Homo sapiens: one gene and its partners. The protein of the gene in region 3 purifies or fractionates together with the protein of the main gene of each other region. This does not show direct contact. Each region holds a gene or a part of one and is shown on either strand. Other genes may lie near its edges.

What was found.
Region 1: the proteins of CEP43 (region 3) and LYN purify together in Homo sapiens (affinity purification with mass spectrometry; 2 studies listed by BioGRID and IntAct, with this or other methods). This does not show direct contact.
Region 2: the proteins of CEP43 (region 3) and PPP2R1B purify together in Homo sapiens (co-immunoprecipitation; 2 studies listed by BioGRID and IntAct, with this or other methods). This does not show direct contact.
Region 4: the proteins of CEP43 (region 3) and CDK5RAP2 purify together in Homo sapiens (co-immunoprecipitation; 2 studies listed by BioGRID and IntAct, with this or other methods). This does not show direct contact.
Region 5: the proteins of CEP43 (region 3) and ESCO1 purify together in Homo sapiens (affinity purification with mass spectrometry; one large-scale study listed by BioGRID and IntAct). This does not show direct contact.
Region 6: the proteins of CEP43 (region 3) and MSL3 purify together in Homo sapiens (affinity purification with mass spectrometry; 4 studies listed by BioGRID and IntAct, with this or other methods). This does not show direct contact.
Region 7: the proteins of CEP43 (region 3) and GNS purify together in Homo sapiens (affinity purification with mass spectrometry; one large-scale study listed by BioGRID and IntAct). This does not show direct contact.

Annotation. Positions count from the first base shown.
Region 1 is NC_000008.11:55,886,335-55,889,834, forward strand, and holds part of LYN (tyrosine-protein kinase Lyn), read left to right. Parts: intron 1-3,500. UniProt on the Homo sapiens protein: Non-receptor tyrosine-protein kinase that transmits signals from cell surface receptors and plays an important role in the regulation of innate and adaptive immune responses, hematopoiesis, responses to growth factors and cytokines, integrin signaling, but also responses to DNA damage and genotoxic agents.
Region 2 is NC_000011.10:111,749,390-111,752,889, reverse strand, and holds part of PPP2R1B (serine/threonine-protein phosphatase 2A 65 kDa regulatory subunit A beta isoform), read left to right. Parts: intron 1-557; coding exon 558-731; intron 732-3,500. UniProt on the Homo sapiens protein: The PR65 subunit of protein phosphatase 2A serves as a scaffolding molecule to coordinate the assembly of the catalytic subunit and a variable regulatory B subunit.
Region 3 is NC_000006.12:167,047,897-167,051,396, reverse strand, and holds part of CEP43 (centrosomal protein 43), read right to left. Parts: 3' UTR 1-3,500. UniProt on the Homo sapiens protein: Required for anchoring microtubules to the centrosomes. Required for ciliation.
Region 4 is NC_000009.12:120,402,168-120,405,667, forward strand, and holds part of CDK5RAP2 (CDK5 regulatory subunit-associated protein 2), read right to left. Parts: intron 1,947-3,500; coding exon 1,869-1,946; intron 905-1,868; coding exon 639-904; intron 1-638. UniProt on the Homo sapiens protein: Potential regulator of CDK5 activity via its interaction with CDK5R1. Negative regulator of centriole disengagement (licensing) which maintains centriole engagement and cohesion. Involved in regulation of mitotic spindle orientation.
Region 5 is NC_000018.10:21,569,705-21,573,204, forward strand, and holds part of ESCO1 (N-acetyltransferase ESCO1), read right to left. Parts: intron 1-3,500. UniProt on the Homo sapiens protein: Acetyltransferase required for the establishment of sister chromatid cohesion. Couples the processes of cohesion and DNA replication to ensure that only sister chromatids become paired together.
Region 6 is NC_000023.11:11,768,237-11,771,736, reverse strand, and holds part of MSL3 (MSL complex subunit 3), read right to left. Parts: intron 3,165-3,500; coding exon 3,055-3,164; intron 1-3,054. UniProt on the Homo sapiens protein: Non-catalytic component of the MSL histone acetyltransferase complex, a multiprotein complex that mediates the majority of histone H4 acetylation at 'Lys-16' (H4K16ac), an epigenetic mark that prevents chromatin compaction.
Region 7 is NC_000012.12:64,738,907-64,742,406, forward strand, and holds part of GNS (N-acetylglucosamine-6-sulfatase precursor), read right to left. Parts: intron 1,783-3,500; coding exon 1,700-1,782; intron 594-1,699; coding exon 475-593; intron 1-474. UniProt on the Homo sapiens protein: Hydrolyzes 6-sulfate groups in N-acetyl-d-glucosaminide units of heparin sulfate and keratan sulfate.

The DNA of each region.
Region 1 (3,500 bases), on a different chromosome or scaffold from region 3:
GTTCAAGCGATTCTGCTGCCTCAGCCTCCCGAGTAGCTGGGATTACAGGCATGCACCAATGCACCACCATGCCCGGCTAATTTTTGTATTTTTAGTAGAGACAGGGTTTCATCATGTTGGCCAGCCTGGTCTCGAACACCTGACCTCAGGTGATCTGCCTGCCTCGGCCTCCCAAAGTGCTGGGATTACAGGCATGAGCCACGCGCCCAGCCTGTCAAACTTATTTGACCACAACCCATAGCAAGAAACATTTTACCTTGTGCTCAAATACACATATCTGTAGGCAAAACAAAATAGAAAAAGGAAAATACAATCTGGTGGAACAGCCCCTCCCCTTAACTTGCAGGGGAATGTGGCCTGGAGCAGCTTTTCTGAGGTAGGATTGGCCAGCTCCATCAGAGTTTGTTTGTTCTGATGCATAATAGATATACATAGTTTCAGGGCACATGTGATAATTTAATACATCATATAATTTGTAAAGATTAAATCAGTATTTGCGATAGCCATCACCTTAAATATTTGTTTTCTTTTTAAATGCTGAATCTTTTGAATTCTTCTAGCTGTTTTGAAATGCACAATAGTTAATGGTGAACTCTAGTCACCCTACCAGGTCTTATTTCTTCTATCAAACAGTATATTTGTATCCATTAATCAACATATTTTCATCCCCCCTTCCAACGTACAGAGATGGGCAGTCCAATAGGGAGGTTTATTAAACAAACACAAATTAAGTCACATTCATATAATGGGATACTTTGTAAATATCTTAAAAGATAAAACATTCAATTACAGTTACTAATATGAAAAATTTTTTTTCAAAAGCTGAACACGGCCAGGCGGCCAGGCGCAGTGGCCCTTGCCTGTAATCCCAGCACTCTGGGAGCATGAGGCAGGAGGATTGCTTGAGCTCAGGAGCTCGAAATCAGCCTGTGCAATTTGTCTCAAACAAACAAACAATAGCAAAAGAGCTGAACACAAACTAGTAGATGACATGATACCATTTCTGAAATAAAATATTCATATATGGACACATCATCTATAAACTGCATTTCAAACAATTTTTATACTAAGATCTTAATAGTGATTATTTCTGGGTGACAGTTGAGTGCTGTTTTTACTTCTGTACGTCTTTATATTTAAAAGAATGAGCATCCCATATATACATAAATATATATATAAATCCCACATATAAATATATACATAAATCCCATATAAAAATATAAATATATATATATATATATACACACACACACACACACACACACACACATATATATATATTTTTTTTTTCCTGAGACAGAGTCTTGCTCTGTCACCCAGGCTGGACTGTGATGGTGTGATCTCGGCTCACTGCAACCTCCACCTCCCGGGTTCAAGTGATTCCTGTGCTTCAGCCTCCTGAGTAGCTGGAATTACAGGCACACACCACCATGCCCAGCTACTTTTTGTATTTTTAGTACAGACAGGGCTTTGCTGTGTTGGCCAGGCTGGTCTCGAACTTCTGGCCTCAAGTTATCCGGCTGCCTCAGCCTCCCGAAATCCGGGGATTACAGGCATAAGTCATTGCGCCTGGCTCCTTATATGATTTTAAAACGGCAGGATATAAGGAGCAATGGAATGAAGCCAGTGGGACTGCAGAAGGCAGGTGGAAGCAGACAGGGAACTTTGGAGCTAGAGTGACTTGAAGGACGCTTGATGGATATAATTGTAAGAGTCCTGTCTCAGGAGAGCTGATGCGCTGTAAATGTTGTAAATAGAACATTTTCTTAAAGAACCTTCCACTGCTATGTTTAGTATTCAGTTTAGCAAACTTTTCCTGGGTAGCTACTGGGAGTCCCGCACAGTGTTAGGAGTTGGGGTACACACCTGCCATGTTGGTGGAAATCCTGAAGGGAGTGGGCCACACACCCTGGAAGAAGGGGCTTTCCTGAGGAAGGACAGCCTGACTATGCAGGGGTCATTCCACATTACCAGAGCTTGTTCCAGAGAGGCAGTGGGAGGCTCCACAGGCAGGCTTGGAGGGTGCTTGGCCCTAATACTAAATGTTGGACTTCATGGCATTAACGAAGGGGAATCACTGGAGCCTTTTAGTATGAAGCTAATCTTTTTGTCCATCACAGGCAACTTCTTGCCTACACTCTTTTACAATATGGCATTTATGACATAGCCAAGAGCGAAGACACGTTGAACACTGACTTAATGCTTTGAGTAGGTGGAGAGTTGAATGACTCAAGGCTACTTCTCTAGAGATTAATTTGAAGCTAGAAAGTAACATTTATTTCTGTTTTCTGTGACAGCAATAGGCTTCAGCTTGTAATCGTCATCTGCAAGTAGGTACTTGACACCTCCCCTAAGTGACCTGGAGAGTGACAGATACAGTAATGGGCACAATCCTTGGTTTTTTGTTTTGTTTTGTTTTTGAGACAGAGTCTCACTCTGTCATCCAGGCTGGAGTGCAGTGGTACGATCTCACTCACCAGGGATTTGGCCACCACGCCTGGCCGAATCCCTGGTTTTAAGCAAAATTTTAATATGGAGTTTATGGTTGTTGGTATAATGAAATGCGGCACCATAGCAGTTGATTTTTGTCTTTCAGAACCACACTGGCTTTTTGTATTATTTCAAATTTGATAGATGCCCAATGTATGTAACAAAAATTTTCCCTCACGTGTATTTCTTTCTTTATTTATTTGTATGTTTTGAGATGGGGTCTCACTCTGTCGCCCAGGCTGAAGTGCAGTGGTGCTATCTCGGCTCACTGCAACCTCCACCTCCCAGGCCCAAGCCATCCTCTCACCTCAGTACTGGGTAGCTAGGATTACAGGCCCCGCCACCAGGCCTGCGTAATTTTTTTGTTTTTTGGGAGGCCAAGGCAGGAGGATAATTTGAGCTCAGGAGTTTGAGACCAGGCTGTAACCCCAGGCAGGAGTACAGTGGTGCAGTCATAGCTCACTGCACCCTTGACCTCCTGGGCTCAAGCCATCTTCCCACTTCAGCCTCCAAGTAGCTGGGACTACAGGTGTGTGCCACTATGCCTGGCTTATTTTTTGTAGAGATGGGGTTTGGCCATGTTGGCCAGCCTGGTGTCAAACTCCTAAGCTCAAGGGATCCACCTGCCTCAGCCTCCCAAAGTGCTGTGCTGGGATTACAGGCGTGAGCCACCACACCCAGCCCAAGTATATTTATCGAGTGCTGTATGTCATGATAGTGGGTGGTTTGGGGGAATACCAACATAAATAAGTGGGAGGTTTCTATCCTAGAGGAGTTTATTGTGCTCTGTTCTCTCTGGATTGTTCACAAACCAGAATGCCGATCAAAGACTTTGCTAGGGTTGTGGGTGGGCGACTTGCTCAGGAGATCCCTGGCACCCAAATGAGTGCCCAGAAATCACTCTGAATGGTCAAAAGTAAGGCAGGGCAGGGCGGTAGAGCACAGGGTGTCGAATTAATTTCATGTGGGGGCTGAAATCCCAGGTCTGTCCCTTCCTAACTGTGGGCTGC
Region 2 (3,500 bases), on a different chromosome or scaffold from region 3:
CTGAGTTGATGCCATTCTCTTGCCTCAGCCTCCTGAGTAGCTGGGACTACAGGCGCCTGCCACAGCACCCAGCTAATTTTTTGTATTTTTAGTAGAGACGGGGTTTCACTGTGGTCTCGATCTCCTGACCTCGTGATCTGCCCGTCTCGGCCTCCCAAAGTGCTGGGATTACAGGTGTGAGCCACCGCACCCGGCCAATTATCCCATTTTACAGATGAGAAAGCTGAGGCATAGAGGGTTAAAGTAACTTGAGCAAGGTCTTTCAACAATGACAGATCTGAAATTTGAGTGCATCTGATTTAGTTCCAGAGATTATGCTCTTTACCATCTTACGGACTTTTCTTGTAGTCTTTAGTATTACGGACTTTTAATTGAAATTTCTGATTAAGATCATTTATGTTCCTTGAGTTATTTATGTATTCACTATTATTTCTTCAAGATTATCCATTTTTTTTTCACCTGAGTCTTACCTCACCTTTTATCTTACCCTGACAGGAGACTGTTGGGCAGAGTACTTGATTTTTAAATGTGGTCTTTTGGGGCTTGTGTACTTGCAGTGTCCTGACGTTCGTTTGAATATCATCTCCAATTTGGATTGTGTAAATGAAGTGATTGGAATCCGTCAGCTCTCTCAGTCTCTCCTTCCTGCCATAGTGGAGCTGGCAGAAGATGCCAAATGGAGGGTCCGCCTGGCCATCATTGAGTATATGCCGCTGCTGGCAGGCCAGCTGGTGAGTATGTGTTGCTCCATGAACTGCAGGGTAGTGTCAGATAGTGACAATTTACCATGGCAAGTAGGAGGCCTAGTAGCCTGTATGCTTATGTTTGTTTAGATGCATGAAAGTATGGCCTTGTTCTTGTTACCTATAGGATGGTTTTTATGTTTGTTAGTGCATACGTTTCTTTTCTTTTAAGATGGAGTTTCACTGTTGTTGCCCAGGCTGGAGTGCAATGATGCAATCTTGGCTCACTGCAACCTCCACCTCCTGGGTTTAAGCGATTCTCCTGTCTCAGCCTCCCAAGTAGCTGGGATTACAGGAATATGCCACCACACCCAGCTAATTTTGTATTTTTAATAGAGATGGGGTTTTACCATGTTGGTCAGGCTGGTCTTGAATTCCTGACCTCAGGTGATTCACCCGCCTCAGCCTCCCAAAGTGCTGGGATTCCAGGCGTGAGCCACTGCATCTGGCCTATTAGTGCATACATTTCTAACAAAAAGGTATAGGTTGAGTATCCCTCATCTAAATACGCTTGGGACCAGCATGTTTGGGACCAGAAGTGGATTTTGGAATATTTGCATTATAAATATTTACTGGTTGAGCAGCCCAAATTCAAAAATGCAAAGTCCAGAATGCTCCAATGAGCATTTCCTTTGAGCATCATATCAGTGCTCAAAAAGTTTTGGATTTTGGAGCATTTCACATTTTGGATTTTTGGATTTGGGATGCTTAATCTGTATTACAGAAACATATTTCACCTCATCACCACCGAAAAACAAAGCCATAGAATAATCAGTTTCTTGGTATATATAATGTAAATTTTATAATATTTAATGCCTTTGTGACTTAAGAAATGTTTAACTGAGAAGAAAAGGGATTATGGTTTTAGGGTAAGTCTGCTGTGATTTTTGCTCAAGGAAACTTCCCTGTTTGCCTTGTATTCTAAGCAAAATGTCCCTAGGTACCACTTGCCCTACATTCTGATTAAAGGGAGTTGAGGAATCACCATATAGAAAAGAAGTATTGAAAGGCCGGGCACAGTGGCTGACACCTGTAAACCCAGCACTTTGGGAGCCAGAGGCAGGCGAATCACTTGAGGCTAGGAGTTCCAGACCAGCCTGGCCAACATGGTGAAACCCCATCTCTACTAAAAATACAAAAATTAGCTGGGCACGGAGGTGCACACCTGTAATACCAGCTACTCGGGAGGCTGAGGCAGGAGAATCGCTTGAACCCAGGAGGCGAAGGCTGCAGTGAGCCAAGATTGCACTACTGCACTGCAGCCTGGGCAACAGAGTAAAACTTTGTGTCAAAAAAAAAAAAACAAAACAAAAACAAAAACTGAAGCTTGTAATGTTAGTATTTTGGTCAAAGTCCACATTATCACATTATCTGTTACTGTTTGAGTTTCGTGATCAGTGTTACCCTAACTAATACCATGTTAGTTAAAATTTCAAAGCTGGGTTTTATAGCCACATCCTTTCCTTTTTTTGAGTAGGTGGCCTAGACAGTTCTAAGTTTGATGTACCTTCATCTCTGTTGGTAGCACTTATTACAGAGTATTGTAATTGTCTGTTACAGTCTAGTTGGAGAGATGGGTGATCTCTTTTAGGGCAGGGACTGTATTTTATTTCCAGTCCCTACCATAGTGCCCGTCATTAATTAGGCACTTAACATTTTTTATTTTGGGGGCAGGGTCTTGCTGTTGCCCAGGCTGGTCTTGAACTCATGGCCTCAAATGATCCTCCTGCCTCGGCCTCCTGAGTAGCTGATAATAGGCATGAGCCACTGTGTATAGCCAACATTTGTTGATTGTTGAGTATTTTTTGAGAAAGATGTGTCAGTTTACTATTGACATCGCTACAGTTTGTTTCCCCTTCCTCACTCCCACTTCCATTCCTTTCAGGTCACAACATATGGAATTTATTTTTTCTTGTCTTGAACCCCTGAATTTGTATTTTTAATTTTAGTACATTTAGTTTATGAACATGCAATTTGTGGATGTCTGTGGCATTATATGTTTTATAAAATTGAAAGTGTCCGATTCTTTGAAAAGTATACCAGAGGTATTAGTGCATGGCAAATGGGATCAGGTGAAGTTATTTTGTCATCCTTTTTGTCTGTCACTCCCAAGTGCTATGGGTCATCTTCTCTTCACTGGTGATTGTCATGGATCTACTTTTCAGAGTGGAGAGGAGCAGTGATTAACTGATTTGCTGAAGACCAAAACTATCTGGAAGGGAGGGTGCATTTTAGTACCATTTCTTTTAACCTCTGCTCCTTCTAGACCTGGAAAGTTTCCCAGGGTTGCTAGCTCTATAGAGAGCAGTGTGAAAGCAAGGCAGATGGTGTCTTTGGCTGACTTACACCTGTCTGGCAGGGGTGACATGCCTCAGTCATGAACATTTTGCTTTACAATTTTAACTTCTTGTTAGTATATATATTCTCCTTAATTTCTCTTCATATCTAAATATTTTTATATCAGATAGTCATTTTATAAAATTCTCTCAAGACTTTATGTATGACCTGGCTTGTGGACGATGTTAAGTAAGTGTAAAGTTAAACTACAAAAACCGGAAAATAGGCCAGGCGTAGTGGCTCACGCTTGTAATCCCAGCACTTTGGGAGGCCTAGGTGGGTGGATCACCTGAGGTCAGGAGTTTGAGCCCAGCCTGACCAACATGGTGAAACCCCATCTCTACTATACAAAAAATTTAGCCGGGTGTGGTGGTGGGTGCCTGTTACTTGGGAGGCTTCTTGGGAGGCTGAGGCAGGAGA
Region 3 (3,500 bases):
CAAACGATTATAGTTTATAGTTTAGATGATAATAGCCCTGCCCCCCAAAATTAAACTGCCTTTGTAAAACTAATGAAAGGCTACCAGGTTAGGAGGAAGTGAGGGGCCTGAATTCTACTAAGATATAGGTGTAAAGATTACCACCTATTTTCTACAGAGGTCACAAGATTTGCAACTTTCCCAATTACTATAAATAACTTGACTATTGTAGAACCTAACATTTGAGATGACTTTCCAGGCTTTTGCATTTCTGACAACCAGATGGCCCTACTTGAACCTGTACCTCTTGAATTCTTGGCTCAACTGGTCCTCTGGCCCCCACCCAGAAGCTGACTTAGTACACAAGAAACATTTAGTTTCTTAGTACACAAACCCCTGCCCACCAAACTATCTTTGAAAAGACCTAGCCTCCAAATTTTTGTGGAGGCTGATTTGAGTAATAATAAAACTCCAGTCTCTTGTTTAGCCAGTTCTACATGTATTAAACTCTTTCTCTATTGCAATTTCCCTGTCCTCATAAATCGGCTCTATCTGGGCAGCAGGCAAAATGAACCTGTCAGAAACTTACAAATCCAATGTCTCATTTTCTTTCTTTTTTTTTTTTTTTTTTTTTTTCTTTTTTGAGTCTCACTCTGTCACCCAGACTGGAGCGCAGTGGCATGATCTCAGCTCACTGCAAACTCTGACTCCAGGGTTCAAGCAATTCCCCTGCCTCAGCCTCCCAAGTAGATGGGACTATAGGCGGGCACGCACTGCCACACCTGACTAATTTTTGTATTTTTAGTAGAGACAGGAGTTCTCCATGTTAGCCACGCTGGTCTCGAACCCCTGACCTCAAGTGATCTGCTGGTCTTGGCCTCCCAAAGTGCTGGGATTACAGGCGTGAGCCACCACGCCTGGCCAATGCCCCATTTTCAATGATGGATAGAACAACTAAGAGTAAGATCAACAAGGAAATAAAAGACGTGAACGACACAATAACAAGACCTAAAAAACACCTGTATTAGTCCGTTCTCACACTGCTATGAAGAAATAGCCGCAGCTTGGTAATTTATAAAGGAAAGAGGTTTAATTGACTCACAGTTCAGCATGGCTGGGGAGGCCTCATGAAACTTACACTCATGGCAGAAGGCAAAGGAGAAGCAAGGCACCTTCTTCACAGTGTGGCAGGACAGCCTGAGTGCAAGCAGGGGAAATGCCAGATGCTTATAAAACCATCAGACCTTGTGAGACTCACTATCATGAAAACAGAGTAGGGAAAACCACCCTCATGATCCAATTACCTCCACCTGGTCCCACCCTTGACACATGGAGATTATGGGGATTACAAGTCAAGATGAGATTTTGAGTGGGGACACAGCGAAGCCATATCAACATCTATAGAACAGTTTACCCAACAACAGCAGAATAGATATTAATATTTTTAAGTGCACATAAGACATGCTCCAAATGCAAATCTAAACCACAAGAGATACAATGTCACACCTGCCAGAATGTCTATATCTAAAAAGAGAGAGAATAAGGAGTATTCGTGATGATGTGGAGAAACTGGAAGCTTCATGCATTGCTGGTAGGGATATAAAATGGTGCAGCTGCTTTGGAAAACAATTTAGCAATTCTTCAAAACACCAAACATAGAGTTATTATATTACTCAGAGGCTCCACTTTTATGTACTCAAGAGAAAATAAAGCATATTATATATCTACACAAACACTGCATATGAATGTGCTTAGCACTGTTATTCACAACAGCAGAAAAAGTGGAAACAACCCAAATGTCCATCAACCAATGAATGGATAAAGTGTGGTCAATCCCTACAATGGAGTATTGTTAGGAAACAAAAATAAATGAAGTACTGACAAATGCTACAACACAGATGACTCTTGAAAACATTATGCTAAGTGAAAGAAGCCAGTCATAAAAGGCCACATAGTGTATAATTCCGTTTATATGTAATGTCCAGAAGAGGCAACTCTGAAGAGACAGGAAGTGGTTGCCAGACAGGGAGCTGAGAGGAATGGCGGAGCATAGGGAGTTACTGCCAATGGATACAAGGTTTCTTTTTGGGGTGAATTTTTCAAAATTTACTGTGGTAATTGTTTTATAGCACTTGAAGTTCATAAAATTTAGAGTTGCCTTCTTTTCGAAAGTGAATACAAAAGTATATAAAATTACCTGTGAATGAGGAACAAATCCCAACAAATCACAAATTTTAAAAATCTGACAAATACCACAAACGTCACAAAATCCAGAAAACTAAGATATCTATAACTGCCTGGCATGGCTTTTTGATACATCTGTGCTACATTAAACAGCAAACGTTCTATATGACTTTTCCATAGGACAATGATTTTAAAAATATCTTTCAACAGAGATAAAAAATCAGTTTACTCTGTTGATCAAAAATGATTTTTAATTCTTGAGAGGTTTTAAGGGTTTCATCAGTCTTTACAATCCCTTTTTTAAAATGTCATGAAAGTACTAGAATTGTCACATTTCTGGAAACCTTTTTCAAGTTCTTTTTCCACATATGAGTTTAGAGGCTATTTCACACTTTCAGTGACTAAGAACATTTAGTGATGTACATGCTCTTTCAATGACATTCATTAACCAATTTTTCATTAATGTCATCATAATGGCATATTACAGTTTTATGTTATTTACATCAATATTTTGTGTCAAATCAGTAATAATTTGAATATTTTTACCATGTATTTGCATGGTGTCTTCCCCTTCAGTAATTGCACTGTCAAATCATAGAAGAGCTCCTCATGATCTCTGGGCAACATGGAATTTATGAATCACTGTTTTGATATAATTTGAAAGATAGTTTGTTACAATTAGTTCTTTTTTTTGAGATAGGGTCTTACTCTGTCACCCAGGCTGTAGTGCAGTGATGCAATCTCAGTTCACTGCAGACTCGACCTCCCCGGCTCAAGCAAACCTCCTGCAATCCTCCTGCCTCAGCCTCCCGAGTAGCTGGGACCACAGGCATGTGCCATCATGCCTAGCTAATCTTTGCATTTTTTTGTAGAGACAGGGTTTCACCGTATTGCCCAGAATGGTCTCAAACTCCTGAGCTCAAATGATCCTCCTGCATCAGTTTCCTCAATAGCTAGGACTACAGGCACAGGCCATGATGCCTAGCTAATTTTTATATTTTTTGTAGAGATAGGGGTCTTACTATGTTGCCCAGGCTAGTCTCACAAACTCCTGAGCTCAAGCAATCTGCCCGCCTTGGTCTCCGTAAGTGCTGGGATTACAGGTGTGAGCCACCACGCCTGCCTACAATTCAGTTTTAATGTCCAGATGATTTCTAACGTTGGATCACTCATCTTTATCATGCAGATATCTAAAAGCAGAGCTAAATAAAGATGCTCATCGTGTGAGTTAAAGCTTGTCTGTTATTCCTAGGCACCACAGTCTGTGGTATACTAAGAATTGTTGTTTTTCTAGTCTCATAATTCTCTTGTGAACGAAATGAAAATGCAGGTTTTCG
Region 4 (3,500 bases), on a different chromosome or scaffold from region 3:
CTGTGGTCACAGCTACTTGGGAGGCTGAGGCAGGAGGATTGCTTGAGCCTAGGAGGTGGGGTCGAAGCTACAGTGAGCCATGATCGCGCCACTGCACTCCAGCCTGGGTGACAGAGCTAGATCCTGTCTCAAAATAAAAAAAACACAACAACAACAAAACCTCAACAAAAACAAAAATGTAGTGAGACAAACGTTCATGAACAGAGATAGAATTGTTTTGCAAAGTAATGGAGCAACAGTTATCATCAAGAGCCCTAAAAAGTTCACAACCTTTGAACTAGTAATTCCACTTCATAATGGGCGACAGCCAGGTGGATGGGCAGATGAATGGACAGACACACCAGGGTGCAGATGGAGAGAAGAATGGATGAGAGACCAGATGTACAGAGGCCGTCATGGGAACAAGACAGCAGAGCCCATGGAGCAGTTGCAGGAACACAAGGCACAAACCCCACCAAACACAGCCACCACCAATAGTTCCCCACACTGGACCTGACCTCTGAGCTCTCTGAGGCCACACTTCCTGGTCCCTCTTCTCAGGGTCCTAATGAGGACAACTGCGCCATTTGACTCCCCTCCCCCTTCCACCGACACTCCCAGGGAGCAGCTTGTGCCCCCCAGCTCTGTGGTCAGGTTACCTTTGTTCCCAGCTCTTGACTTGTGGAGCTGGGAGCCTCTTGGGTTTGAATGTCCATTTCAGCAAGGAGCCTCTGTCCCTGGCTGATCTGTTTGAGCAGGGCCTCATAGTCCTCAATCAGGCCCAGGACATGGCGGCCATTCTTGCTGGCCCACAGGTGGTGGCCAGTGACCAGGCGGGACACACACGGAGTGCTAGTTGCCGAACTGCCACTGTCGCAGGAGAGGGAGTCCGTGTCATTCCCAGAGAGTGGAGGAGTCTCTGAAACTGTAAAATGAGAAGTAGGATGTAAAATCTGTTTCAGGTAACACTCTGCGTTCAAGACGCTTATGATGTTGAAGCTAGCTAGGAGGGCTAGAAGAGGCCCTCGTGCCCAAATGCCACCCAACACAAGCCCAGAGGGGAAAAGAGGCACGCTCCTGGACCTCTGTATATTACCCCACACTGGGCTTATGAGTCATCTTGTAGGAGAGGCTCAAGTCAACTCAACCAACACTTATCAACCACCCACTCGGCAGAAGACCCCAGATTCACAAGGATGACTCAAGCTGGTGCCTGCATTCCAGTAGCCCACAGTCTGATCAGAACACAGACACTGCAGAAGGTGCAACAGCAGAGTGATGAAGGGCCAGAGCCAGAAAAAACAATTATCTGTGCAGGGAGGGAGAGAACAGGGAAGGCTTCTGAGAAGGAGCAGCATTTGAACTGGATTGAGCAAGTAGCAAGAATTACACGAATGATGAGTCATTCTGACCAAGGACAGCAGCAAAGGCATGTCACAGAGAAATGTGTATTCATGATGAGTCTTGAGGAAACGGGACTTCTACCGGCAAAGAGTGGGACAAAGGGGGTCTAAAAGTCACAGTGAGAGGAAAGTGTGGGCCTGTCTGCAGGATGGTGACCCCTGTGTGGCTACACCAGGTTAAGGGATAAGGCTGGACGGACCCACTGGAGCTGGATCCTGGAGGGCCTTGAAAGCCTCACAAAGGTGGTCACAATTTTAATCTAAGGCAAGAGGGACCCAATGATGTTCTAACCTTGGTAACACCTAGGAGTGGATTAACTGGCTTGAAGGAGAAGATCACCAGCTGGGGATGCTGAGAACTTGAAATCCCAAATCCTTACCAAATACCCTCCTGAGTTGGGACCAGGGACCCCCCTTTTCTGCAAGTTAAAAAGTCTTACTGTCACATCCAATGCTCCCACAGTTACCTGGACTTCAGCTTTGTACCTGATTTTGGTGTCACTGCCTGGGAGGAATCAAACAGATCAAATGAATTATCACTTTCCATGGGATATTTGTCACCATCTACAAAATGCAAAACACGAGAACTGTTAGTTTCACTGTTGTCAGCATTCAAGAGAGAACTGAAAGAGAATACAGTCAAGCCCCTCACATTCACTTATCCATACACACACAGCATTCCTTCAAATCTTCACTGGGCCTCTGTCCTGCCAAGCCCACCTTTGTGGGACACCAGGGAGACAGAGTGACCAGGCCCAGTCCATTCCCTAGAAAAACTCTCAGCAGAAAAGTAAATAAGCAATTTTATTTTAGTGTGATCAAGGACAAGGGAGGGAAACACAGGCTGTTGGGGCTCAGGTGAGGGGCACTACCCCCAACTTGGCTTCCCAAAGGCTAATACCCGTTTTAAAACCTTATGTTTTAAGACTGATTGTGACTGACCTATGGTAAGAAGGAGGGAAAGAAATGCCAGGCAGCACAATGGGCAGGTGAGAGGCAGACAGTGGGACAAAGAGTGGAATCATCGCTCAGGGAGAAATAAGCAGTTCATAGACCCAAGGCCCGGGTGCAGGGAAGGACAAAGTAGAATGCAAGGCCAGAACCAAGAGGACTGAGGGGCCCACTCAAGGGCTTTGGGCAAGGCAATGTCAAGCTGAGGTCTGTATTTTGTACTGAAAGAGTAAGTCTGGAGGCTGCCACACTAACCTAAGCTAGAGATGAGAGTAACCCACAATAGGATCTGGGGGGTGATGTATTTGCAACACTGTAAGGAGGCAAAACCAATAGATGCTGTACAGATGACCTGTGCAACACGTTATAATTTGGAAAGCACTTTCACATATGAAAAGCTATTGGACTCAATAGCTCAGTGGGCAAAACACACTGTAATTCAGATTTCATGGAAGGGGAGACCAAGGGGCAGAGATAGAAAGTGATCTGTCCAGCATAACCCAGCATGTCAGTGGCACAGAGCAAGGAAGCCTAGGGCTTAGGATCCCCCTTCCGAGCTCCTGCACCACTGGGCGGTGGGCTGACTGCACTCCAGCATTTCCCAGGGGTGTGCTACAGTTCCTAAGGCCAAGGAGCCAGGAGGTCAGCTCCATAGAGCTGGCCCCAAGAGGAATCACTCTCAGTGAAAGACATCAGCCTTTAGAACAGAATTTTTAAAACAGATGCACTTAAATACAGACCTGAGAAGTCTTTTGCAAAGGAAGAAATGCTGCTGCCTATAATTCTGATCTTGACTCAAGGAAATTATAAAACTTTTCTGCTGAGGCAGCACTGTGAATTCTGAATGCTCTCCTGGATGCCTCTTGCCAGGCATGATGAGGGCTGCTTTCGGCAAATTTCAAAAGCAGGTAAAGGCTGTTTGATGGCCTCCTCACTTCAGCTACCCAACTCTCCTTCCTGGGTACCCCAAGCACAGAACTGTTCTCCCTGCTTCAAACTCCCCTAGCCTACCCCACAAGTTCCTGAATCCCATCTCCTCAAAGCCTTAAAAAGGGCCAGGTGCAGACCCGTGTTGAAAATAGTAATGCCCAATGCTGAGGTCACACAAAAACCACTACCTTTGTACACTGCTGATGTACAGACTATTTAGAAGGTGGCAATATGGCA
Region 5 (3,500 bases), on a different chromosome or scaffold from region 3:
TTGCACTTAGCTGGGTGTGGTGGCGGTCCCAGTTACTCACGAGGCTAAGGCAGGAGAAATCACTTGAACCCGGGAGGCGGAGGTTGCAGTGAGCCAAGATCACACCACTGCACTCCAGCCTGGCGACAGAGCAAGACTCCGTCTCAAAAAAGAAAAAAATACTCCAAACTCCATCAACAGTGGCTATCTCAGGGAAATGGAAATGGAAACTTCTTAAGGGCAGGAAACCTATCCATGTTCTATGGTCCTAGCACAGCACAGCACCTTGAATACAGCAGGCACTCAAATATGTCCTGAACCAATATGGTCACCACCACATTTCCTGATCACTCTGTGACAGTGGTCAAAATGTTGAGATTAGTGAAAAATAATTGGAAACAATCTGAAAGGTGAAAGTCTTCTTTTTCTTTTGAGATAGAGTCTCACTCTGTCACCCAGGCTGGAATGCAGTGAAATGATCACAGCTCACTGCAGCCTCAACCTCCTGGGCTCAAGAGGTCCTCCCGCCTCAGCCTCCCAAGTAGCTGGGACCACAGGCACACATTACCACTCCTAGCTAATTTTTAAATTATTTTGTAGAGAGGGAGTCTCACTATGTTGCTCAAACTTGTCTAAAACTCCTGGGCTCAAGAGATCCTCCCACCTCAACCTCACAAAATGCTGGGATTACAGGCATGAGCCACTGTGCCTGGCCCAAGGTGAAAGTCTTTTCATAGAAGAAAAGATAAACTTGTTGTATATTCCCATAGTTTTAAAAATACTCAGGTATCAATAAGTATCAAATATAATGTTGATTACACAAAGCCAAGTTACAAAAATATATGTGCTAGTATTTTTGTAAAACACTGAAACACAAACAAAGCTAAGTATTCTTTATGAATTTATATACACATAAAATCACAGAAATAAAAACTGAAAAGATCCACATCCACTTTAGGAGCACATTTTAACTATAGGGAGATGGGTAAATGGAATAAAGAGTTGCAGTCTTCGGCCAGGCGTGGTGGCTCACACCTGTAATCCCAGCACTTTGGGAGGCCGAGTTGGGAGGATCAGGAGGTCAGGAGATCGAGACCATCCTGGCCAACGGGTGAAACCCCGTCTCTACTAAAAACACAAAAAATTAGCCGGGCGTGGTGGCAGGCGCCTGTAGTCTCAGCTACTCAGGAGGCTGAGGCAGGAGAATGGCGTGAACCCAGGAGGCGGAGCCTGCAGTGAGCCGAGATGCACCACTGCACTCCAGCCGGGGTGACAGAGTGAGACTTCATCTCAAAAAAAAAAAAAAGAGTTGCAGTCTTCATCTACACCTGTAATGTACCTTTTGTAACTTTAAAGGATTTTCAGTAATTTTTTTTAAATGTTAACTTTTGTCAAATCTGGGTGGTAGACATATGAGAGTAATGTTCATCTCTGCTATATTCTAAATGTTTGCAATATTCCAGAATTTCAAACCGTAAGATTTTTAACATAGCAACAAGTTTCTTAGGATATTTTTTTTTTGAAGACAGACTTTCACTCTGTCACCCAGGCTGGAGTACAGTGGCGTGATCTTGGCTCACTGCAGCCTCCGCCTCCCAGGTTCAAATGATTCTTCCACCTCAGCCTCCTGAGTAGCTGGGATTACAGGTGTGCACCACCACACCCAGCTAATTTCTTGTATTTTTAGAAGAGATGGGGTTTCACCATGCTGTCCAAGCTGGTCTCGAACTCCTGACCTCAGGTGATCCAACTGCCTCAGCCTCCCAAAAGTCCTGGGATTAAAGGCATGAGCCACCACGCCTGGCAGGATGGTTTCTTATAATGTTCCTCCAAACAGAGGGGCTGCATAAATTCAAAGTATCTTTCAGTAAAAGCAATGTTATCAAAGGTCAAAATAATGTGGTCTACATAAACATCTTCATTCAAGTACAGTTTAGTACAAAGGAATGAATTAGATTTCATATCCATCAATATACTCTCCATAAACTGCCTTCTGAGTTTTGACAGGCATTTATGCAGCAAGCAATTAGAAGACACACTCTCCAACTACATCTGGAGACACAATCCTGAATAAAAAGCCACTACATCTCTGCACAAAGCCACAACTTATTACTCATACTACAACTCACTACTTATTTCTAATTACTATCACTGACTGGTAAAATCTCTCTGAACAATCATCTTTTAATTGATGCTTGCATTCCTGTCTATATAGAAAATAAAATCTGAGAGTACAATATGGTGTCTTCTCCCTTTAAGAAAAATAATAGACACTGATCTATTTTCATGGCTTCTGGAATAAAGCCCAGACTCCTAATGCACTCACATTTGCTCCTAGACAAAATGTCTCAAAAGAGAACTTTAAATCACTTGCAAAACTTTGAAATGACTTGACTTTTTTCTCTATTCATGATTACTTTTTTTGCTCAAATGATTTCTAATGTTCAGAGTATGTTGTTTTAGAAAGAATGCTGGGCTAAGAATTAGAACACCTGGATTCTAATTCTATTTGTGCCACCAAACGTGTTGCCTAAATCACATTCCACTCCAAGTTTTCTTATTATAAAATTAAACAGTACAAATAAATCAGTTTGATCTATGTTAGAGTTCCAGGGTTCTATGCATATAAAATTTCTGCTTATTGGTTTTATATATTAGTAGTCTACATATAATTTACTTTAGAAAGAAAAGGGCTCAGCTGCTTTCATAAAATTTAAAACTACTTTCTTAGGTAATCAAAATTTATTCCAGATACAAGATTCTGGTTTTCAGTTTACTTTTCCATTTCAGAGTCTTGGCCACTACAATTTTATTCTTAGGCTGAAGACTGAATTATTTATACCTCTCAGACAGACATTCTACTTGCCAACTATTCAAAATGGCCACAAAGGTCATCTCCTTAAAAATGTTTAACTTTTAAATTATATCCAGTAGGAAAAAAGGCTGATTAGTCCTAGTTGAAATTAATTTTAATATTTAGGTCAAAAGTAGTCCCTAAAGGCCAGGTGCAGTGGCTCACGCCTGTAATCCCAGCACTTTGGGAGGCCGAGGTGGATGGATTACCTGAGGTCGGGAGTTCGAGACCAGCCTGATCAACATGGAGAAACCCCGTCTCTACTAAAAATACAAAATCAGCCAGGCATGGTGATGCATGCCTGTAATCCCAGCTACTCGGGAGGCTGAGGCTAGAGAATGGCTTGAACCTGGGAGGCGGAGGATGCAGTGAGCTGAGATTGTGCCATTGCATGCCAGCTTGGGGAACAAGGGCGAAACTCCATCTCAAAAAAAAAAAAAGTAGTCCCTAAGAAACGTACTTTCTATGGTTATAATTAACAGAAAATCAGTGTGTTAAATTTAAAAGAAAAGCTGGAATTCAACCGGCTTATGCTTACATAAAATAAAAATGAAGAGTAAAAATGAGGAAACAATGAGAAGCACCCCAAGTAAATGTGAGACATCTGAAGTTCTATCACAAGACTGGGTTAATAAAACTCTCGCTAACAACTTAACAGGAGAACTTA
Region 6 (3,500 bases), on a different chromosome or scaffold from region 3:
GTGGTGGTGGACGCCTGTAATCCCAGCTACTTGGGAGGCTGAGGCAGGAGAATCACCTGAACCAAGGAGGCAGAGGTTACAGTGAACCAAGGTTGTGCCACTGCACTCCAGCCTGGGCAACAAGAGTGAAACTCTGGCCCCCTTCCCCTCCACCCAGAAAAAAGAAAATCCTGCTGCACTAGAGAGAGAATGAAGCATTAAAAAGTAATCCATAGATGTTCTGAATAATATTACTGTTGTTTCAAGATTCCTTAATTTCTTGCTGTTAGATTCATTATGGAAACGAATTTGAATCTTTTAACCCCTTGAATCAACTGAAATAGACTTCAAACCTGATAACTGATTTGTCTTCATTCTGAATTTCAGAACTGTGGGTGGACCTGGGGCTTTTGTTAAAGGGAGAGTTGCATTTCAAAACTCTCTGATGAATTTCCGTAAAAGTACTTCAGCAAATTATAGAACCAGAGCCTACTCTACTGAGCTGCTACTTTGGCTTTTGGGACGTCATATTCAATATGGAAACAGTCAGACTGGAGGAAGTCCACCAGCAGACAAAGCAGAAAGAAAGATGCCCCCACAAACTCAGAAACACTGATATAGTCAGTTTAACAACATGGAACTGCCAGAAGCTAATAAGCACCAAGGTGGCCCTGAAGGATCCAGAACAAAGGCCTAGCTTCACTTTGGCCCCTGCCTAGACAGGCCTAGACTCTCGCCTAGGTCTCCACCCCCAGCGCCCCACTTCTGCACTGTGGAGCACTGAGGGAAGGGATCGTTCCAGCATCTTTACAGCATCCCCAGCACCTGCCCAGTGCACACAGCTGAAGCTTTGGAACCATTCTGAAAGTGACTCAAAGGAAACATACAGGACTTTGCAATCTCAGAGGCATGAACAGCACTTGGCACGTACAAAAGCAGGTCATCTGGCTCTATCTCACTCACTCAATTCTGTGTTTCAAGGCAGTTTATAATCTTCTATTTATGAAGACACATTTTCCGGGGAAAAATGGTAGGTTTCTAGTCGGGGGATTCCCAGTGGGGTATGCATGGGAATCATTGATGGACCTTTACTGGCATGTGCTGGCCCAGACCAGCCCCTAGTACTGTGGAGCAGCGATTGGAACTGAGAGAAAGAGCCCTGGTCAAAAAACACGGTGGTAGACGTACGTAAGAAGGTGGGAATCCACGAAGGTCTCATGAGTCCTTGTGAGAGCCGCCTGAACCCCAACCATTTCCCAGAAAGCACTTTCAAACTATAAGTTGCAGCTGTACCTATAACCACTAGATGGCGCATTCGCACTGCAGACCGGAGTGGGAATAGCCCTTACTTGACAACTCAGATGCCCCTTAAATTCACGATTTCCCCTCAATAATAAAATTCGTAGTGCATTCTTATCTGAAAAATGGGCATGTCAGGGACTGCTTGAACTAGGGATTTCCTAACCTACCCTCAACAATCATCATAACACAAATTAGGCTTTCTAGATTCTCTATGGGGTCAGCCAACTGTAGCCCCTAGGCCAAATCCAGCCCCATGCTCATATGTTCAAAATGGTTGGGGAAAAAAAATCATACGAATAATATTTTGTGATATGTGAAAATCACATGACATTAAATTCTCAGTGTCCATGAATGAATTAAGGGGGCAGCACACAGAGCCACACCCCTTTGTTTATGGCAGAGCCACGTCCCTTTGTTTAGGGCTTTCCTGCTGGAACAGCAGAGTTGAGCAGTCTCTCAAGAGACCTTAGGGTACACACTACTGAAGACAGTTATCGTCTGGAAGAAAGTTTTGTGACTTCTCTTCCCATCATCAAGTGCTCTTTGCCTAGGCTGGGCACAGTGGCTCATGCCTGTAACCCCAGCACTTTGGGAGGCAGAGGCGGGAGGATCACTTGAGCTCAGGAGTTGGTGACCAGGCTGGGCAACATGGCAAAACTTAGTCTCTACAAAAAAATGCAAAAATTAGCCAGGCCATGGTGGCATGAGCCTGTAGTTCCAGCTACTCAGGAGGCTGAGGTGGGAGGATCGCCTGAGCCCAGGAGGCAGAGGCTGCAGTGAGCTAACATCCTGCCACTGCACTGCAGCCTGGGTGACAGCATGAGAGTGAGACCCTGTGTCAAAAAAAGAAAAAAATGTTCTTTGCCTAGCAAAGCCATTTTCCCTTGTGCAACTCCTACTCACCTTAAAAAAAGAGGAAATCTCACCTCCTAGGAGACGTTCACAGAATATGCTGATAAACTGAGACGTCTTCAGAATCCCTGACAAACTCACCACCTACAGATCACCTAATGGGCCTTAAAAATAGTTTTAAAATGAAAAGTTTTCCCATCTATCAAGTGGAAATCTGGTGGCAAGGCTGATCTCGAGAATTCAAAGTATTTGGTTCAAGTGTCTGGCACAGTGGTGGCCTAGAGCCCATCCCTGAAGGGACGGCTATTGGTATTACTGTTAATGATGGAGGGGAATCAGGGATTTAAAGTAGGAGTCAGCAAACTACAGCCTGCTGGTCACATCCCGCCCAACTACTGCCTGTTTCTATATTGCCCACAAGCTAAGAGTGGATGTTATATTTTTAAATGATTGAAAAACAAAAAAAATTTTCAAACACATGAAAATTAAATGCTAGTCAAATTTCAGTGTCCATAAATCAAGTTTTATTGGAATATAGCACACTCATTTTATTTACATACTATCTGTGGCTACTTTTGGAGTTAAGTAGCCTTGACAGACACCATATGGCCCACAAAGCCGAAAGTATTTACCCTCTGGCCCTCTGTGGAAATTGACATCTGTTCTATAAAGTAAAAATACTGGTATTTCAATAATTGCACTTATTTAAAAGATGATTGTCAGTGTAGGGCTGGAATCCTAACAATTTTCTCACTTTAGAAACCAAAACCCACAGTGTTAAGCATAAAATTACGTACAATTTTGATAATGTTTACAGTAATAGCAGCAACATGATGCTTTAAGAACCTTGACTTCCACCTATAGAATTGAAGTAATCACAAATAAAGGAACCATTGGGAACAAACATCAAACATTCTTTACCTCGTTTATTTCATTAGTTCTTCTCCCTTCAAAGCCAGCAAACACAGCACTCCCTTCCTTGCTAGGAGTCAGAGGAATAGGTGAAGATGATCTGCTATGCACAGGTGTCTCTTCCAAAGAAAAAGATGAAATTATTCACACAGCAACTGAATTAAAGACTGCCTCAAGACTGTTAAAAACTGCAGAACATAAATCTAAACTTGGTTCTCAGAAATTACCAACCTTTAACGATAAGACTTTCCTAACAGATAGCACCTGAATTTTATTTGGTTAAAAAAATAAGGAATAAAGCACTGACATATGCTACAATGTGGATGAACCTTAAAAGACTATGCTTAGTGAATGGAGCCAATCACAAAGGGCCACATACTATGTTTCCATTTATATGAAATACCCAGGGTAGGCAAATCCAGAGAGACCGAAAGCAGCTTAGTGGTTGCCAGGAG
Region 7 (3,500 bases), on a different chromosome or scaffold from region 3:
GACATTTATATATGTGGAAAGAAGAAAACATTTGCTTTTAACAACAGAAGGTCCAAGCAGAAAGCATGAAAGTCAAGGACACAGAGCTGACTCATCCTGCAGCTTTTGAAAAAAACAAAAACACCCAAAAAACAAATTCCATGAATGGCAAGAAAGTTTTCCCAAGACAACCTCCTTTTGGTCTTCCTATCTCAAATGCCTTCCATACGGCCTGCCTCCAACCCATCAAGCTCATGCTCTGCTCCCACTCCTAGAACACCATGTCATCTTGCATGTGAAACAGCAAATAATGAAACCTGGTTTCTCCACGTGGGTATGATGTGGTGCTCCAACTGGAGGGGTCCTGAGGGCAAGATCCTCCCTCTGGCATGTCCACAGTTATAAAAAGACTAGAACTCCCTCCCAGGGCTCATTGGGTGAAAAAGGAAAGACATATTCTCAAAGATCACAGCAGTACCTACTCCTGCCTCTGACCTGTGTGATAGCCATTGTCTGAGGTATAGAAGATGTAAGTGTTGTTGAGCTCCCCAGTGAACTCCAGCCTCTTGACCAGTTTCTCCACAAGGTCATCAACTGAGAGGAGAGTTTGCCACCTGGATGTGAACAGAAGGTAGAAATGGGACTTCAGGGGCAATGGCTGAGGTATCACTATCTTGCCAAAAAAAAAAAAAACCAAAAACAAAAACAAAGACACCCCCGTTTAAAAAAAAAAATCCAAAACAACCCCCGTTTAAAAAAAAAAAATTGCAAAACACTCTCCCCCAAAACTCAAATCCCCAATCTCCATTCCCTAGACCTTCCCATTGTAAAAAACAGATTAGAAAATTCCAGAACATAATTAATTCATTCCAAAGTTAATTGTTTCCAAAGAAATAAACTCGTTTTTAAATAACCAGTTAGCTTTACTTTTTATTGGCAATAGTGATGAGAGTAGAGACAATCGGAAGGAAGAGTTGTCCATTCTCAGTACTGTGTATTACAGATTAATTCAGATAGGACTGTGCTACAAAAAAGCTTAAGATGTTTGAACTAGGAGCTGGCAAGCTATGACTCATGGGCCAAAGCTTGCCCACTGTCTGTTTTTATAAAGTTTTATTGGACCACAACCATGCTCATTCATTTACATGTTACCCAGGGCTGCTTTTGTGCTACAACAGCAGAGCTGAGTAGTTGTGACAGAATGTATGACCTGCAAGCCTATTAATATTTACTATCTGCCCCTTTACAGAAAAAGTTTGCTTATCCCTGGTCTACACTAAACACTTCCTAAGAGAAAGTAATGGATTTTTAAAAATTGACTTAAGAGAATTTCTTGAAAATTCCAAATGGCAAAGGCAGATATTTTGATCTTGTCTAAGCTTTTGGGTCATTTGTCACATATGACAATGGGCTCTCTCAACCAAGTCACCTTTTCTTTAAAGCAGGAGAAAAAATTCTACCACATGGTTCAAGTTTGCAAGACTTTTGCCAAGTCCTAAAAATGGGCAGTCTAATTAGTACTGGGGTCCAAATGCCACCTCATTCATTTGAGTGTAAAGGAATCTCTCTGCTTCTGGTGCCCCATCGAAGCCTCTCTCCCACTGACTTGCTTCCCTCTGTTTTTGTTTCAGAGACAACAATGTGGTGTGGTCTCCTCTTCATGAGCTGATTTGCAGGGTCTTTAAAACCACTCAGATTGTTATGTAGCAGCAGCTCTTACCTTTTCCTAAATGCATTATCTAAAAACTGTATTGAAGAATTAGTCATTGGAGTCTTGGCTTGCCTAATTAACCAGTGCTTGTTCTAAAATTTAGAAGAAAAAAAATGTTAACACCAAGTCACCACAGTCAAACAAACTACTGGATTACTACAGTAGATAATAAATAGAACCGTTTCACTCATACTTCAGCAAGAAGGAACTAACTGGAACTTGTTTAAGCAATTTCAGAACTTCTCTCCCTTCCTGTGTTCCTAAAATAGAAATTTCTGTAGATTAACTCAATCTCTCATTCTTCAGCTTCCCAGCACCTCCCAAACCATAAAAGGTCTTGGCTTCTCTGTTGGCAGTATTAAGAGATTTTAGAGGATGTCACTGGGAAACTACTAGCTAAAGCGAGATTACATTTACAACTCTGATCTTATGCCTTTGGTCTACTACAATTAGAAAATGGGCAAATAGGGCGTAGTGGCGGGCGCCTGTAGTCCCAGCTACTTGGGAGGCTGAGGCAGGAGAATGGCGTGAACCCGGGAGGCGGAGCTTGCAGTGAGCCGAGATCCCGCCACTGCACTCCAGCCTGGGCGACAGAGCGAGACTCCGTCTCAAAAAAAAAAAAAAAAAAGAAAATGGGCAAATAACTTTACCTTCCTCTAAGTTGCTTTTTTTGAGACAGAGGCGGAGGTTGCATTGAGCCGAGATCGCACTACTACACTCCAGCCCAAGCCCAAGCTGGAGTACAGTGGCACGATCTCGGCTCACTGCAACCTGTGCCTCCCGGGTTCATGCGATTTTCATGCCTCAGCCACCTGAGTAGCTGGGATTACAGGCGTGCACCAACATGCCTGTCTAATTTTTGTATTTTCAGTAGAGATGGGGTTTCATCATGTTCGCCAGGCTGGTCTTGAACTCCTGGCCTCAGGTGATCCTCTTGCCTTAGCCTCCCAAAGTGCTGGGATTACAAGCATAAGCCACCATACCTGGTCTACCTTCCTCTAAGTTTTGCCTAGCCAAGATATCGGTCACCCTAGATCCTAAGGAAAAATCTTATTACAGCAATTTCCTAAAACTTCAAGTCTAAATCTGGAGGGCCCTCCCATTTAAACAAAGACATCCCTATATACTATTCTCTCTTCTCTATTCGTAAAACCCTAAGCCACCAGATCTCAAACTATGCTCCTCAAAGTGTTATTAAGTTTGAGAAATGCTGTATAGCATATTCTCCTGCTAGAAATTCACATTCGATCATGAATAACTCTGAGAAGTCCTGTAGCAGAGTGACTTATTTAACTCAAACTTTCCAAACTTACTTGACCATGGGAACTTTTTATTAACTTCTTTTGGAACACAGATTGAGAATCGTCCTATTTTACTATTTTTTAATTTATTTTATTTTATTTTATCTTATCTTGTCTCATCTCATCTTATTTTATTTTATTTTGATGGAATCTTGCACTGTTTCCCAGGCTGGAGTGCAGTGGTGCGATCTCGGCTCACGGCAAGCTCCGCCTCCCGGGTTCACGCCATTCTCCTGCCTCAGCCTCCCGAGTAGCTGGGAGTACAGGTGTCCACCACCACGCCCGGCTAATTTTTTGTACTTTTAGTAGAGATGGGGTTTCACTGTGTTAGCCAGGATGGTCTCAATCTCCTGACCTCGTGATTCGCCCGCCTTGGCCTCCCAAAGTGCTGGGATTACAGGCATGAGCCACTGCGCCCGGCCAGTACTCTAATTTAAAACACAGTTCACTCAGCTTTGAAACTGTATTTAACAAGCACATGCCTATAATGTGCCAGACAATATGCTAAT